2 separate regions of the Homo sapiens genome follow, and region 2 is linked to region 1. Evidence: fine-mapped expression QTL. A gene starts in region 1. The other region holds a variant in brackets. All regions are shown on one strand. Distances are between the middles of the regions. Region 1 holds the start of MTERF4 (mitochondrial transcription termination factor 4). Region 2 overlaps PASK (PAS domain containing serine/threonine kinase).

What was found. PIP is the estimated chance that this variant, and not a neighbour inherited with it, causes the effect. A credible set is the group of variants that fine-mapping cannot tell apart.
Region 2: its variant is the best candidate, but not a certain one, in a credible set for the expression of MTERF4 in whole blood (TOPMed, PIP 0.57).

The regions. Positions count from the first base shown.
Region 1 is chr2:241,100,274-241,105,532 of GRCh38, reverse strand. It overlaps MTERF4 (mitochondrial transcription termination factor 4), which reads left to right and starts at 3,246. Exons shown (of 4, transcript NM_182501.4): 1 at 3,246-3,280. The coding sequence starts at 3,260. RefSeq lists enhancers at 2,920-3,459, 3,460-3,999.
Region 2 is chr2:241,129,731-241,134,989 of GRCh38, reverse strand. It overlaps PASK (PAS domain containing serine/threonine kinase), which reads left to right. Exons shown (of 18, transcript NM_015148.4): 9 at 1,960-2,116. Among named protein-coding and RNA genes, the nearest start is that of PASK, 17 kb to the left of the region's middle. RefSeq lists an enhancer at 2,012-2,101. The variant A/T (reference allele first, on the strand shown) is at 3,306.

The DNA of each region.
Region 1 (5,259 bases):
TTTTCCCCTGCTGAGACAGTAGGAAAAAAACCAAAAACCTAAACCCCTACCCTTTTCCCACATGTCATCACTTGCAGACGGTTTTTCCACATTCTGAGACTCCTGCCCAGAACCCTCTGGAAGCTGCCTGGGAGCCAGGCTGCCTCCTGCGTGGTTCTGAGCTATTTCTAGTGGTTATTTAGGAGGCACTCAACTGTTTTGGGATGATCAGAGTTAATTTTAGTCCCATCTAGTAGGATATGGGCTATTGCCATCCCTTTCTTCAGAAAGTGCTGCCTGAGCCTCGCTGCCACCACAAGTGACTGATGGAGTTGGTGGGGGAGGACCCTCCTCTATCAGGGACATTCAAGGTACAAGGGTTTTACAGGTGTGTATTAAAGTCAGTGATGTTCACTCTTCAGAATTCAAAGAGTTTTCTGATGTTTTAAGAACCCCTACCTTGTAGTGTTTATGGTGCTTATAACACAGAGGATGTTATAGAATGGTGTTTGTTTGTTTGTTTATTTATTTAGAGACAGAGTCTTATACTGTCGCCTGGGCTGGAGTGCAATGGTGCGATCTCAGCTCACTGCAACCTCCGCCTCCCAGGTTCAAGCAATTCTGCCTCAGCCTCCCAAGTAGCTGGGATTACAGGTGCCCACCACCACGCCTGGCTAAATTTTTGTATTTTTAGTAGAGACGAGGTTTCACTATGTTGGCCAGGCTGGTCTCAAACTCCTGACCTCATGATCCGCCCGCCTCGGCCTCCCAAAATGTTGGGATTACAGGCATGAGCCACTGCGTTCGGCCACAATGGTGTTTGCAGACAGGTGTTTAATGGGTTGAGAATGCATAGTCTGAGCTTTCTAAGAACTGTTACTTCTTTATAAGAAAAAATAATTAAAGCTCATCTGACTTCATGGCAGTGGAAGGTCTGGTATTTTGCAAACGTTCTTTGCAGAAAGAACCCAGAGAGGAAAGTTCTGAGGCTGAGGCTGACAATTTTTCCACTCCATTTTTTTTTTTTTTTTTAAGATGGAATCTTGCTCTGTCACCCAGGCTGGAGTGCAATGGTGCAATCTCGGCTCACTGCAACCTCCGTTCCCTGGGTTCAAGCAATTCTCCTGCCTCAGCCTCCCGAGTAGCTGGGATTACAAGTGTGCGTTATCACGTTACCTGGCTAATTTTTGTATTTTTAGTAGAGGCAGGGTTTCACTATATTGGCCAGGCTGGTCTCGAACTCCTGACCTCAGGTGATCCACCCATCTCAGCCTCTCAAAGTGCTGGGATTACAAGCATGAGCCACCGTGCCCAACCCACTGCATATTTTTAAAGTATGGTTCGAGAGAGCAAAGTTTTCACACAAGACTGAAGGTGATGTCAAATTTTTTTTTTTTTTTTTTGAGAAGTACTTTCGCTTTTGTTGCCCAGGCTGCAGTACAATGGCGTGATCTTGGCTCACTGCAACCTCCGCCTCCCAGGTTCAAGTGATTCTCCTGCCTCAGCCTCCTGAGTAGCTGACACTACAGGTGCCCACCACCATGCCTGGCTAATTTTTGTATTTTTAGTAGAGATGGGGTTTCACCATGTTTTCCAGGCTGGTCTCAAACCCCTGACCTCAGGTGATCTGCCCACCTCGGCCTCCCAAAGTGCTGGGATTACAGGCGTGAGCCACCACACCCGGGCTCATGTCAATTTTTCATAGTAATCCCCATGTCCCAGCTGTCATTTTATTTCTAGAGCTAGACAAACTGTTCAGGTTCCTTGATTCTTTCCAGGGAGTTGGGGTGGCTCATGGGATTTTCTTAGGCTTTTGGTGTAGCATTAACACAATTTATTGTGAGATGTTGACAGTTGAGTATTTTGAGAAGAAAATTACATTATAAAAAACAACAAAGGCAACCAATTTTTTTTTTCCTTTTGTTTTTTGAGACAAGGTCTTGCTCTGTTACGCAGGCTGGAGTGCAGTGGTGCAATCATGGCTCACTGCAGCCTCAACCTCCTGGACTCAAGTGATCCTCCCACTTCAGGCTCCTGAGTAGCTGGGACTACAGGTGCACGCCACTACTCCCGGCTAATTTTTTATTTTTTGTAGAGACAGGATTTTCCTATGTTGCTCAGGTTGGTCTTGAACTCCTGAGCCCAGGCAATCCCCCCCACCTCAGCCTCTCACAGTGCTGGGATTACAGGCGTGGGCCACTGCACTCTGCCAAAGCAACCAATTCTTTAGTTTCTACACGGATTAGAACCTTCCTTTTCTTTGACATAATCCTTTTGTCAAAAGACAGTTTTACATAAATTGTTTGGCACCCCACTCCATGCCTGGCGCAAAGCAGATATGTAAATGTGTGCCCATGCAAGAATCAAATCCTTTATGTCAGTCCAGAATGAAGTAGATAAAACAAGAAATGCTTATAAATTAAGGCTTTGGTGGCAGGATTTAGGCAGCTGAGAAAGCACACCTTTTTATTCTTCACAAGCATCACCTTGTGAAAGATGCCTACGCTCTTAGGTCGAGAGAGGAAATTTAAGAATGAATACACATTGGGCTAAAACTTTACTATATTTCATCCTAAGAGGGAACCAGACCTCGAAGTTGGGAAGGCTCTTGCTTATAAAGGGAAATGTGCCGTAATTCCTGTCATTTTACTTGGGTCTTTTAAAAACGGCAAATTCTCATCTTCCACTGGCTGAGAGTAAAAAGAAAGAAAAGCGGTAAAGACTTCTTTTTGTGCGTAGGTGGCCCCGGTGTTCACGCTGAATACAGATTTTTACACAATAAAATCTTAAATATCTCTACATGGAACGGAATCCATTTTTCCTGCCTCGGGAAGGATTTCTGCGCTCTCGGGTGAAGTTCCCGAAGCAAGGAACCAGTTCCCCTCTACCTGTACTCTTGAGAGGAATTCTCAGGTCATCTGAAACACAAGTATGGGCCAGGACGACCCATTCGTTCACGCGGCCCAGAGCTCTGCGAAACGGGACACGGCAGTGCAACGGGAACAACCGGACACCGAGGCCCCCGAAGGCTGAGGCCGCGGCAGAGGCGGCGGCACGGTGACGGGCGCGACTCCGGCCTTCCGGCTTTCTAAGGGGCGGCCCCGGGACACCTGAGCCCCGCGGGGCCGTGAACGCTCAGCACAGCTCCGGGCCGGAATCACGATCCACCACACCGCGCTGGCGCTGGGAACGGCGTCGGTGACGGACCGGGGGCCGGAAGTGAAGGACGGGGGAGGACCGCTGCTTCCGGCGCCGTAACTGCTGCCATCTTCTCCGCGCTATGGCTGCGTTCGGCCGTCAGGTAAGCTCGAGCTGGGCGCGCGGGCTTCTCCGGGTCGCAGGCGGGCGGGCAGCGACGCAGAGGAACCGCGGCCGCCGAGTGTTTCACGGCCAGGTCGTGGAGCCCTCCCGGAGGTCCGTGCACGCTGACCTGGTTTTGGCATCCTGGACCCGTGGCTCTGCTCAATTATTGTGGGATATAGAGTTGACATTTTTTTTTTTTGAGACAAAGTCTCGCTCTGTCTCCAGGCTGGAGTGCAATGGCGCGATCTCGGCTCACTGCAACCTCCGCCTCCCGGGTTCAAGCAATTCTACTGCTTCAGCCTCCCAAGTAGCTGGGATTACAGGCGCCCGCCACCATGCCTGGCTAATTTTTGTATTTTTAGTAGAGACGGGGTTTCACCGTGTTGGCCAGTCTGGTCTGTAACTTCTGGCCTCAGGTGATCCACCCGCCTCGAACTCCCAAAGTGCTGGGATTACAGGCGTGAGCCACCGCGCCCGGCCTGAGTTGACTGTTGAACAAGAGTTTGAACTTCACAAGGAAGATAACATGTACTTTTCATTAAGAGGAAGCGGAATCAGCATAGAGGTCTTTAGGCTTGAGCCCAGTTCCACGGGCCGCGCCCGCTGACCCCAGCGACTGCCAGGTGTTCCTGGCGGAGGGAGCATCTGGACAGGGGAGGCTGGAGAGCAGCCAGAGCTTGGGCTTGGCAGGGTGGCCCCAGGGCGACAATCGATGACGCTGGAGAAGGGGTTGGGACCGATGTGAAGGTTTTAGAGCAGGGGTTCCCCAACCCCCGGTACCGTCCCTTGCCTATTAGGAACCAGGCTGCACAGCAGGAGGTGAGCGGCAAGTGAGCCAGCCAGACTGTATTTACAGCCGCTCCCTTCGCTGGCATTACCGCCTGAGCTCCGCCTCCTGTCAGACCAGCCGCCTTAGATTCTCACTGGAGCGCGAACCCTATTGTGAACTGCGCCTTTGAGGGGTCCAGGTTGCGCTCCTTATGAGAATCTGATGCCCGATGATCTGTCACTGTTTCCCATCAACCCCAGATGGCACCTCCTGGTTGTAGGAAAACAAGCTCAGGGCTCCCAGTGATTCTACATTATGGTGAGTTGTATAATTATTTCATCTTATATTACAACGTGAAAATAACAGAAATAAAGTGCACAACAAATGTAATATGCTTGAATCATCCTGAAACCCCTCACCAGTCTGTGGAAAAATTGTCTTCCATGAAGCCAGTCCCTGGTGCCAAAAACGTTGAAGACTGCTGGCTTAGAGTGCCTGGATGATTTGTGCATAGTTTGTTAAGCACCAGCCTGAACCACTGAAGACTTTTGAGGTCAACTGGAATTGTGTATGCAAGTTGACTAATTACTGTGACCCTTGAACAACACAGGGGTTAGGGGCACCAGACCGCCCCCACACCAGTTGAAAATCAGTGTATAACGTTTGACTCCTCCAAAACTCAACTACTAATAGCCTACTCATGACTGGAAGCCTTACCGACAACATAAACAGTTAACACATATCTTGTATATATATATATTGCATTCTGTATTCTTAAAGTAAGCTAGAGAAAAGAAAACGTTATTCAGAAAATCATAAGGGCAAAACCCCGTCTCTACAAAAAATACAAAAATTAGCAGGGTGTAGTGTGCACCTGTAGTCCCAGCTACTCAGAAGGCTGAGGTGGGAGGATTACCTCAGCCTGGGGAAGTCAAGGCTGCAGTGAGCCATGATTGCACCACTGCACTCCAGCCTGGGCAACAGAGTGAGACCCCCGTCTCAAAAAACAAAAAGAAAATCCTAAGAGAAAATGTATTTACTATTCATTAAGAGGAAGTAGATCCTCATAAGGTCTTTAGGCTGAAGAGGAGGTGAAGGAGAGTTTGGTCTTGGTGTCTCAAGGGTGGCAGAGGCGGAAGAAAATCCACATATAAGTGGATCCAAGCAGTTCAAACCCTTGTTGTTCAAGGGCCAACTCTGTATCCCAC
Region 2 (5,259 bases), 29 kb before region 1:
CATTCTTGTTGACAAGCATGGGGTGGGGGTGCGCCCTGTCCCTGGCTCTGCCCTGGTGGGGACCCCGGAACTCTGCCTCCAGGGCCTCTGCCCACCTGGAGCGTGGGCTCACTGGGTGTGGTTCTGGAGTTCCTGGGGCAGGCTGGGGCCCAAGGGTCCAGGTGATGGTGTGGCAGGGGTGTCAGGTGGGGGGGTCTCTGTTCTATGGAAGGACACAGTGGGGGTGAGAGAGAGAGAGTGGCCAGTGCTGGCAGAAAGCACAGCCACCTCGGGGCTCTGCATCGTGGTGGGGCCAGGCGGGTCGGCAGGTGCTGGCTTGCGAGGTTGTCCTGCATGCGGTCACTCGGGTATCGAATGAGTGCGAAAGTGGATTTAATACAGTCACTGAGAAAAACTACAGCTTCACGAGACTGACCAGCCTGGTGAGATAAACATTTACCGTCAGACACTCTTTAGCTGTCTGGGCATTGTGTGAGTTCTTTGGCACATGCGCCCAGCCTCCTTCCCCACAGGGTCTCGCCTGGGGCATTAGAAGCTGGATTGTAACATTTGTTTTAAAAGATACTTTGTTAGGCTGTTGGTTCTCCTTACAATCCCGGCTTTCCTTAGCATGTGGTTCCCTTCATTGTATCTGGGTTTTTCTATCTCAGTCTGTCCTTTATACAAGCTTTTTCCTCTAGCACTAATTATATTCCCCTTCCCCTTTTTCCAGAATTCCAAATTCTGACCTGTGCATGCATGCCTGTGTTGAGTACATGCTGTTTGTCGGATATTTGGTGGTGGGGGGAGGGGATCACATTTCTGTTACTCTCGCATTGTTTCCTTAGGATGAATTCTTAGAAGTGGAACTTCTGGATTCAGGGAATGAACACGTTTGCTAGTTACTGTCAAAAATGCCTCTTGGAGAAGTTATGCCGAACCACCCAACTGTCCTGGTCACAGAGCAGGCTTCTCTCGGCTTGGGGCTAGGGTTCTTTCTGGGGTCGTCCTTTTTTTTTTTTTTTTTTGAGACAGAGTTTCGCTCTTGTTGCTGAGGCTGGAGTGCAGTGGCACCATCTCGTCTCACTGCAACCTCTGCCTCCTGGGTTCAGGTGATTCTCCTGTCCCAGCCTTCCGAGTAGCTGGGATTACAGGGATGTAGCACCATGCCTGGCTAATTTTGTGTTTTTAGTGGAGACGGGGTTTCTCCATGTTGGTCAGGCTGGTCTCGAACTCCCAGCCTCAGGTGATCTGCCCGCCTCGGTCTCCCAAAGTGCTGGGATTACAGGTGTGAGCCACTGTGCGTGGCCTCCCAGGGTCCTTCCTAATGCAGGCTGCTTTCTCTCATGTAACCAAGAGACATACATTCATCCCCTACCACGTGCCAGGCTGCACTGCGTGCAGATGCCCCTGCGCTCACGGGGACTGGAGGGAGCCAGGTGACATGGAGCCCAGGAAGTGGCCAGAGCTCGGGAGGAAGGCAAAGAGGGGAAGAGGGCATGCAGTCTTAGGCTTGGGGTCCCAGGAGGCCTAGGGAAGCCTTGTAGATACCCAGGTACAGCATTTCTGGGATCAGGAGCCATGATCCCAAGGCCTCTAATACTTCAGATATGGCAGGGAGGCCAGGTGGAGAGACCTGGAGGAGTGAGGCCACAGAGTTGGGGGGCCATGGCCGAGACTTCGGCTTCTATCCAGAGTCAGATGGGAGCTGTTGGAGGGTTGTCAGCAGGTGAGTGCCGTGCTCTGACTTGGGTGTTAATAGGATCATGGTAGCTGGCTGCAGGTGTCCTGGGCCAAGGAGCAGGGAGACAGGAGGCAGAGAAGAGGGCGCTGGGTTGGACCTGGGACGCCTGGGGTGGTGAGAGGTGGTCGATGCTGGTCATGCTGTGAAGCAGTCTCAGTGAGTTCCAGGCGAATGAGCAGATTCGTTTTAGGGAGTGCCTGTGAAGAGCAAACGCTCTTTTTTGGTGTTGCTGCCAGATCCAAGGATTAATGTCGTGCTTGCTGGTGGCCACGTTGTGCCCCGAGATGAGATCCGGAAGCTGATGGAAAGCCAAGACATCTTCACCGGGACTCAGACTGAGCTGATTGCTGGAGGCCAGCTCCTTTCCTGCCTCTCACCTCAGCCTGCTCCAGGGTAAGTCCCTTGGTGGGAGGTTGCAGGTTTACTAAAAGTCCAGACAGATGGTAGGTGAATGAGGAACAAGTCAGAGAGAAATGTTCAGCCTATTATTCATAGTAACATTGAAAACTCACATGTGTTGAGCACCTGCTCTCTTCCACACACACTGACTGCTGGGTTTTCTGTGCTGCCTGGCTGAGTCCTTATCAGCCTGTATGGGAGGGCACCATGGTGTTACTGTCTCACTGTAGGGATAAGGAAACAGGCTGTGGAGAGTTCCAGAATGTTGAGGTAGATTTCAGAGAACTGATGGAATCATAATTTTATCATTTTCTTTTTTTTTTTTTTTTTTTTTTTTTTTAGACAGAGTCTCGCTGTGTCACCCAGGCTGGAGTGCAGTGGTGCGATCTCAGCTCATTGCTCATTGCATTGCAAGCTCCGCCTCCCGGGTTCACACCATTCTCCTGCCTCAGCCTCCCGAGTAGCTGGGGACTACAGGCGCCCGCCACCACGCCCGGTTACTTTTTTGTATTTTTTTTAGTTTCACCATGTTGGCCAGGATGGTCTCGATTTCCTGACTTTGTTATCCACCCGCCTTGGCCTCCCAAAGTGCTGGGATTAATTTTATCATTTTCAAAGTCATATGAAGCTGTTCTCTTTGCACATTTTAAAATATTCTATTTAGAGTAAAGAAAGTTTATATTAGAGAATTAGGAACATTTGGAAAAGTAGAAATAAAAACTTGTTCTATTCTCATAGTCGTATTGTACATAGCACGTGTGTGTGTATTTTTAACCCATTTTCTTCTTCGGAATCTTTTTTTTTTTTTTTTTTTTGAGATGGAGTCTCACTCAGCTGCCCAGGCTAGAGTGCAGTGGCGTGATCTTGGTTCACTGTAACTTCTGCCCCCTGGTTCAAGTGATTCTCCTGCCTCAGCCTCCTGAGTAGCTGAGACTACAGGCACCTGCCACCACGCCCGGCTAATTTTTGTATTTTTACTAGAGGCGGGGTTTCACTATGTTGGCCAGACTGGTCTCGATCCCTTGACCTCATGGTCCACCCGCCTTGGCCTCCCAAAGTCCTGGGATTACAGGTGTGAGCCACCATACCTGACCCAGAATCTTTTCTTATGCACAGCATGCAGTAAAGGTGCCCAAACTGTAGGTGCCCAGGTGGCCCAGGACCCTTTCTTGGCTGCCTGCAG[A/T]CCCTGGGTCCCTTCCTGCACTGTGCCCCCTACACCCTGCTGCCCTGGGTCAGGGCAGAGGTTAGACTGCCTGCCGTTGAGCCTGACGCATGCATTTCCTTCTGTCTGCCTTCTGCTTATTGCTGTGTCTGTGATATTTATCCACATAGTTGTGTTTTCTAGTCTTGAAATTATTTAAAAAATATGTAATAGATACATATAAAGTATGTATGTATGTTTAAAAATATGTAATGCATGGGCCAGGCGCGGTGGATCACGCCTATAATCCCAGCACTTTGGGAGGCTGAAGTGGGTGGATCATGAGGTCGGCAGATGGAGACCATCCTGGCTAACACGGTGCAACCCCGTCTCTACTAAAAATACAAAAAATTAGCCAGGCATGGTGGCGGGCGCCTGTAGTCCCAGCTACTCGGGAGGCTGAGGCAGGAGAATGGTGTGAACCTGGGAGGCGGAGCTTGCAGTGAGCCTAGATCGCGCCACTGCACTCCAGCCTGGGCGACAGAGTGAGACTCCGTCTCAAAAAAAAAAAAAAAATGTAATACATGCATATGTGTTTTTTTAATTATAGAAGAATAATGGTAAAAGCAATAGTTCCCCTGGCCGTCTTCCAATCCCCCTCCTCCAATCCTACTCTTTCCCCCAGGGGACCGCAGTCAGCAGTTAGAGCCTTCCAGGCCTTCTTTCTTGTGCATTTAACTATAGTTGTATATTATACTTCTATGTGTGCATGTGCATATGTGTGCTCACATGTAACTGCTTCTGTTCCCTGAGCACGGCTGGGATTATACCATACACAGTGTCCTAAATGTGTGTGTATGTGTACGCACACACATGTCCTGCAGATCTTCCTCTACAGGCCTCCTCGGAACCGAAGCCTCCTGGATGGCACCCTAGCTCATGGGCCACTTTCCCACTGGCCGATGTGCCGGTGCTTTCTCTTGTTTGCTTAGCCTCCCTGATTTTCCCTTTGCCACTGTGGGTCCGCGTTGAGTGGCGTGAGAGGGTAGCTGTTGGCTCTATTTGCTCTACTTCCACTGCGAGTGGAACAGAGCAGGCGCTCAACACGTGAGTTTTCAATATTACTATGAATAATATTGCTGTGCGCACCTCTCCAGAGGTGCCACCAAGCTGAAGTGGGGCGGCCGTGGTTGAGGGCCCAAGTCTGACCCGTGGGTGCTCAACAGCACTAGCGGCCGGGCCCCCTTGCCAGTGCTCCCGTTGTCTGGGACATCTTGGTGGACAGAGGCCACGTGGCCCGTTGCTATCCTCAGGACCTTGGACACAACTCATCTTCCAGGACTTGGTGGTACCAAGGGAGTTGCCCAAGATCAGCCAATTCCTAGTCTTTCTATTGCATTGGACGTTTCTGGATGTCACAGTTCTGAGAGTTTGATTAGCATCCACTGCACAGCTAGTGCAGTTATGACTATAGAGATTTATCCATTCATTCCCCGCTCAGTCATTCACTCACTCGTTCGCTTATTCAACAAATAAGCATTACAGAAGACTTGGGGTGTGTCCCTAAGAATTGTAGTCTGGTCAGGACAATAAGCTGAAACAGTAAGACAGAACAGGGTTAGGAAGCATGAAGGAAGGAGGTGAGCTGTACGGAGTGCTTTTGTGTTTTAGGGACTACGTTGGGTGCTTCCTCGTAAGTTGTCTCCTTTAGTTCTCCTGGTAATCCTGGGAGTGTAGTCTGATTTTTAGCAAATGGATGCTGAAGCTGAGTGAATTGTTACACTGGGCATCAGGTCCTCGAAGAGACCCCAGGTGATGTGCTCAGACAGCAGGTGGGGGTCTCGGGTCTCCACGGGGGTCAGGTCCTGGTGCTTCCCCACTGGAGGACCTACGGTCCCTGGGGCTGCCCTGGGTTGAGGTCCCAGCAGCTCAAGGCCTGTGTGCAGTCGGCAGATCACATCCTTCATGCCCTGACTGCATGCTGGCCAGAACTGAG